Linked DNA regions of Homo sapiens. The protein of the gene in region 2 purifies or fractionates together with the protein of the main gene of each other region. This does not show direct contact. Each region holds a gene or a part of one and is shown on either strand. Other genes may lie near its edges.

What was found.
Region 1: the proteins of TNC (region 2) and NID2 purify together in Homo sapiens (affinity purification with mass spectrometry, with the first as the bait; one study listed by BioGRID). This does not show direct contact.

Annotation. Positions count from the first base shown.
Region 1 is NC_000014.9:52,062,560-52,066,059, forward strand, and holds part of NID2 (nidogen-2 precursor), read right to left. Parts: intron 1-3,500.
Region 2 is NC_000009.12:115,059,158-115,062,657, forward strand, and holds part of TNC (tenascin isoform 1 precursor), read right to left. Parts: intron 846-3,500; coding exon 573-845; intron 1-572. UniProt on the Homo sapiens protein: Extracellular matrix protein implicated in guidance of migrating neurons as well as axons during development, synaptic plasticity as well as neuronal regeneration. Promotes neurite outgrowth from cortical neurons grown on a monolayer of astrocytes.

The sequences.
Region 1 (3,500 bases), on a different chromosome or scaffold from region 2:
GTACTAGAGGAAGGAGAAAAAACCCCATTTCAAAAAGCTAAGCTTTCAAAGCTCCTGGCATTGATCTGCCATAATAAATGTGAGATAGGAGAGAATCCTGGTTCTAAATTTAGAGAAATTCCATAAGATAAGGAGGTTGTAGAGACTGTGAAGAATTGAAGGGGATGGGGAAGGGGGGAAGAGAGTAGTAAACAGAGCTGTGAAGAGGAGAGTCTGACTTTTTGCTGTGAACTCTGGGCATTTAGCACTTTATTTTATTCATTCATTCATTCAACCAGCCAACAAATTCATTTCAATTAAAATTTATTCAACATCTTCTATATACTGTTCTTGAGATGAGCACTCATTATGGGTGGCAAGTATTTAATTTCTTTGTCTCCACCAAAATAGGCAAATATCAGAGGAAGGAAACAACTTCCTTTTAAGTAGAATTTATGATCCCAAAGTACACGCCAAAAGAGTTTGGCTGTTTAAAAGCCACCCACACACTAAATGATCACTTGTAAAGTTCTTGGTCAGTTCTACAAAATTCTACATCTAATTGCTAAAGAGCCCACTTCATGAAGTCTTGAAGGGCTCCCCCTCTCAAAAAACTCCTTGACTGGCTTCCAAACAGGAAAGGTCCTCACATTCCTAGATACAAGCTTTTGCAAGAGCCGCACAGGCTCTGTCTCCAAAGAGAAGCCCTCAGATGGGCTGCCAAACCTGACAAACGAGTCACTGGTTCCCAGCTCCCCCAGGATCCCAGAGAGGAGAGAGGGGCCTCCACAGGGAGAGGAGCAGCACAGAGAGGATCAGGGTGAGTGGCTGCAGGCCCTGTTATCAGAAAGAGAGAAAAGCCAGAGCCCTCTGCAGAAACCAGAGCCTGACTCTCCCTCCCAGGTACAGGACATCCCAATCAATGTTGAAGTGACACTCATCAGAGCCAGGCTGATGCATGCAACATACACCCCTCTAAGAGTTTCTAATTTTTTCAATTCATTTAATTAACTGCAGCTATCTGGACAAAAATCAGAATAGTGACATCCTTTTCTTCAAGGGGCTTGCCTATAGAGGCTTATCAAAATGAAAATGAAAATGGAAATGAAGAATTAGGGTGACTCTTATAGGGGTCACAAAGTTCTCTTTGTCATCTTCCTCAGGACCACATGTCCTCTAGAGCTCTAGGATCATTGGGTCTGGCCTCCAGTGTTTGCTGTGAACACTAACCTCCATTCCTTAGTGTAGTTCTTCATCTCCCACTGCCTGTAGGACACTGTCACATGGGGGACTGTCCCTCATTTATTTTACTGCACTAAATCCTACAGATCCTGCCAAAAATTCAAAGACAAATGCTGAGTGCTATCACATCCCTAATACTATATCCTTCCTGATACTCTTCAGCAAAACGTCAGCATTTCTAATTTCCATATATGGTTCAGCATTAACCAATTTCCATATATGTCTCTATTCTCTTCATCTTCACAGTGATATCTCAGACTCAGTCTGAACTCTCTTGGATGGGCTGTAGACCACCCCTCTTCTAAACCTTGTCTCCAGAAGTCAAAAAGCTACAATAAAGTCCTGCTTTTACCTCTCATTTTCTCTGTGAAATCCAACCACCTCCATCAATGACTATCAACCTTTGAACCAAGTCAACATGTCTCAGTCTCCACCCAGATGGAGGCCTCCATTGGGCAGTGTCTTAATTTGTCTTCTGTTGTTTACAACAAAATACTTGAAATTGGGTAATTCACAAAGAAAAGGAATTTACTTCTTACAATTATGGAGGCTGAGAAGTCCAAAGTTGAGAGGTCACATCTGGTGAGGGCCTTCTGGCTAGTGGTGACTGCAGAGTGCCAGGGTACTTACGGTATCACATGGCGACAAAGCTGAGTGTGCTAATGTGCTAGCTCAGGTCTCAATTCCTCTTCTTATAAAGCAACCAGGCCCACTCCATGATAATCCAGTAATCCATGAATGAATAAATTAATCCATTCCTGAGGGCAGAGCCCTCATGACCCAGTCACCTTTCAAAGGCCCCACCTCTCAATACTGTCACATTGAGGATTAAGTTTCAACATGATTTTCAGAGGGGACAAATATTCAACCATAGCGGGCAACCTTGCACTCATCTGTCTTATGTTACTGCCTGTGACTCCTTCATCCATTTCTCTGGCCCCTTTGCTAATAGGTTGCTCTCTCAACCTTCTCCTGGGTCATGTTTTTGCTCAGAACAATCTCTCTTGATACCTCATTCTCAATATCCATTCTTTTTAGCCCTTTCAACCTGACTTAAATTCCAGATAAACAAAACATTCCCCACATTACAGAGATCTATATAACTCAGCTGTCTCTAACCCCATCCCTAAAATGACAAAAACAAAACACTCCTCTTTCCCCACAAAAAGCACAGCTAAACATTAGTCCTCTATGTCTCCCATCAATAAGTATTTCAAAGGTCTACACCATAACTTTTTTGCTCTGTGAACTACCTATGAGAGTTCAAGAAATCTCAGATTAACTGAATTGACAAACACTATTTGTTCACATTTTTTTTTCAGATACAATTACACCTTGACATTCCTGCAATATCAGGTGCAACATCTGGTCACACCTGACAGGAATATCCATGGAGAAAAAGGGCACCAACTGCAATTGTTTTTAATGGCAAAGATGCCATTGCTTTGAATCTTCCAGTTTCCAGTAACTTTGCAATATAAAGTTAGTAAGCCAAACTTTAAGAACGCCATGTAGAACTCAGTCCTTCAAGCAAATTAGATTACTGTTTGCCAAAGTCTATCTCCAAAGAACTATTAAAACAAGAACTCAAGTCCCAGAGCTCTTTAAAATATTGGAAGAAACTTCAATGTGGGTAATTGAAAGAACATCCCCTATCCAAACAGAATCCTCCTTTCTTTTTTTTTTTTTTTCCCCTTTCTTTTTTATTTATTTATTTATTTATTTATTTATTTTTTATTATACTCTAAGTTTTAGGGTACATGTGCACATTGTGCAGGTTAGTTACATATGTATACATGTGCCATGCTGGTGCGCTGCACCCACTAACGTGTCATCTAGCATTAGGTATATCTCCCAATGCTATCCCTCCCCCCTCCCCCAACCCCACCACAGTCCCCAGAGTGTGATATTCCCCTTCCTGTGTCCATGTGATCTCATTGTTCAATTCCCACCTATGAGTGAGAATATGCAGTGTTTGGTTTTTTGTTCTTGCGATAGTTTACTGAGAATGATGGTTTCCAATTTCATCCATGTCCCTACAAAGGACATGAACTCATCATTTTTTAAGGCTGCATAGTATTCCATGGTGTATATGTGCCACATTTTCTTAATCCAGTCTATCATTGTTGGACATTTGGGTTGGTTCCAAGTCTTTGCTATTGTGAATAGTGCCGCAATAAACATACGTGTGCATGTGTCTTTATAGCAGCATGATTTATAGTCCTTTGGGTATATACCCAGTAATGGGATGGCTGGGTCAAATGGTATTTCTAGTTTTC
Region 2 (3,500 bases):
TTGATGTTCTAACAATGACTCAGTATCTGAGAGAACTGCCCGGAGGAGGGTAATTCAGTTCTCTTATTATACTGGGTGCATTTTAAAGAAACATTTCTTACATGCAAGAACCACACTACCCATATCCTTGAGGGATTTAGAGATAGAAAAGCACCATTTCCAACTAGCAAAAGACTCTCAGAAGTAAATAATCTGTGTTCCACCAGAACTCATATATAGGGAGGGAAGCTTTTAGTTATCTCCAAGCACTGGAGAAGTGAATTAAAACCATCAGGCTGATTCCTGAAACAAAAATTCATCATTCAAAAAAGATGTAGAATCAGCCAGGTAAAGTATGAAAGGCTGGGGGGCTGGAGATCAGAAAGGGCAACACCTGCATCATTCACCATCCACATGGCAAAGGCATGAGGACAAAGTCATAGCCCACAGGGAGGTCTCTGAGCATGCACAGCCGGCCACTGAAAGGCACATGAAAAGGATTCAGTTATGGCGAGATGCTGACTCCGCGCATGATCTCTTGAAAAGGAAGCAAAGAACCTTGGGGAGAAAGCATTGACAGGGAGAGGAAGTACCTGTGGAGGCCTCAGCAGAGAGTACTGGTGTTCTATAGCCCCGGATCACCCCATAGATGGAGACTCTATAAGGCGTGGCAGCCTCGAGGCCCGGGATGTCCACAGCCCTGAGGCTGCCAGGCAACGTGAGGTTCTGGGCTGCCTCCACTTTGTTGACCTCCTGCACCTGAATGACAAAGTGCTCATAGGCATTGTCAGCTGCGGTCCAGTTGAGTCTGAGGCCATCCCAGCCAACCTCAGACACGGCTAAATCTCCCAGCTGTGGGAGATCCTCTGAAGAAGGACAGAAAAGTATTTGTCAGTTCTATAAACCAAAAATGAGGAAACCAAACATCCCACAGCCCAACTCTAGGAAAGAGAGAAAGGGGAAAGATAATTTTTTTTTTTAATTCTTGGTCTCTGAGCATTTGCAATTTGAACTGTGGTTCCCTGGCCACAGTTGTCTTCAGGAGTTGAAAATGGCCAGAAAGGGAAATATCTACATGGTTTATCCTTGAGATGGCAAAGACATCTGCACCAATGCACAACCCACCGGGAGCATGCATTGCTAGCAGGTGAAATTCACATGGAAAAGTAGGATTGTGGGTTAGGGTAAGAGATACAGCAATGGTTACAAGTGCAGAATTTGGAGGCAAGTAGTCCTTGATTAGAATCCCAATACTAGCATTTGCTAGCTGCATAATCTTGGGCATGTCACTCAGCTTCTCTCTGAGCCACCCTCTCTTTACCTTTAAATGGAGTTGATGGTACTGTTTCATGGGATTGCGTGATGATTAAATGGTAATATTTATCAACTTCTTAGTATCATACCTGATACATGGCGAGTGCCCAATAAGTGTCAGCTTAATAAAGAAATCATTGTTCAAGTGTTTTCCCTTGGAATTTCTTACTCATGTCAGGGAGAAATCCCTGCTTTATTTCATTATTTATAATTAGAAAGATTATCTCATCACTAGCCACTGGCTACCTGCCTGGGTTGATAAAGTGTATGCTGTCTCAGGTGTGAACAAGTATGATGTTTTTTCTTTGGTCTTCTATCAGCTTTCAGGGATCAAAAGTTGTGTACTGGGTTCTCAGCTTGTTTCTTCTTCCACCTTTTTCTGCTCGTACTTTATGTCTAAAGGAAGAATGGCTGTATCACAGAGCAAAGCTGTTTGTGTGAAATGAGTGTGCCTACTTTTAATTAAAAGAAAGGAGATTTTTCTCAGTAAATGGTGCAGAACAGAACCCACTATTACTGCTTCTACAATGTAGAAAGGAAATTTAACGTAGTTGTTATTGGTGATTTAGAAAGTTTGGATTTAGGATATGGAAAAACCCATTGTTTTGTGGGATGCTTCTGAGGGTTAAATGCAGTCTCTCAGCCACTGTTTTGAAGGCTGAAGTGGCCATGGGTTAGAAGTTAGGGAGGAGAATATCTGCAGGGATTTCAACCAAAAATAGTTGAAAGATATAGATACTTGCTCTTGGGTATCCAAGGATTCAATGCCCTGTGAGAGTCTGAGCAACCTCTGAGCAACCTCTTGCTTTTAAGAGGGGTTATTTTCAAACTGTGTTCCACATAGATCTGGGGCTTTTCTAGAAGAACTGTGTTGAGAACATGGGTGGAGGTATCCCCCTCTTACTTCCAGGCACACCAAGAACAGCTGTTCACTTATCTGTCAAATAGTAGGGTTCCTTGGAAGATTTCATTTGCAAAAGGAGTTGTACTGCTAAAAACAAAAGTTTGCGGACTACAGAGGAAGATATGAGCATCTTGCACACAGACCACACCTGTCTCAAAGGCCCTTTTTGCTCTTGTTTGATCTGAAGATATTCCAGGCAACACAGGAATAAAACCTGGCCCCCTTATTTTTGGAATTTTATGTAGTTTCTAGCAACCACCAAGTTTATCTGTTATATAAGAGCAAGGAAAACAATTGTTTTGAATTGAGTGATTTGGATTGCATTATCAAAAGGCAGCATATGTAGAGTGGGGCATGGGCTTAGGGCTCAGCACAGAAACCCTATCACCAAAAAGTTGGCCCTTTTTCCCATAGCCCTTTTTGAAGCTATTTCTAGAAATCTCATGTACAGCACAGTTTTTTATAACAGATGGAGCAGCTCATTTTTGGTGGAAAATTGAGAGGAATTGTTTTTCCTTCCCAAATTGAATGAAAAGCATTGAAGTCAAAGGTGGCTGTCCTTTCTTGGAAATGTCCCTGCTTTTTGTATCTGTTGAGGAGAGAGTCCTAGATAGTTTCAGCAGAAGCTAACTGCATCATTTCTAAAGGTTATTATGTAGAGATCTGCCTATCAGGTGGGTGTTAGTTGGTGGCTCTGAGGCTAGTAATAAGGTTTTTCTAGAAAGTTCTGATCTTATTTTTGTGCCACAGCCCTAACGTTTGTGCTATTTTAAAAATCATGACTCTGTTGCTGTATGATAAATTTAGCTATTTGCTATTCAGTATTTACTACGTGATGGGCGCTTTACTAAGCACTGACATTCATTAACTTATTTATTGCTCACGACAGTTTCCTGAAGTAGGGTTCATTGCTGATTTAAAGATACAAAAAGGAGGCTCAGGGATGTAAAGAAATATACCCAAGAATAGAGGTAGGGCACGCTGGCTCATGCCTGTAATCCCAGCACTTTGGGAGGCCAAGGTGAGAAGATGGCTTGAGCCCGGGAGTTTGAGACCAGGCTGGGCAAAATGGTGAAACTCCATCTCTACAAAAAATACAAAAAACTTAGCTGAGTGTGGTGGCTCACACCTGTGGTTCCAGCTACTGTAGAGGCTGAGGCAGGAGAATCACTTGAGTCTAGGAGTTCGAGGCTGCAGTGAGCCATGGTCACACCATTGCATTCTAGCCTGGGCAAAAGAATGAGACCCTGACTCAAAAAAAAAAAAAAAAGTATATATCTATATATACACACACACATATATA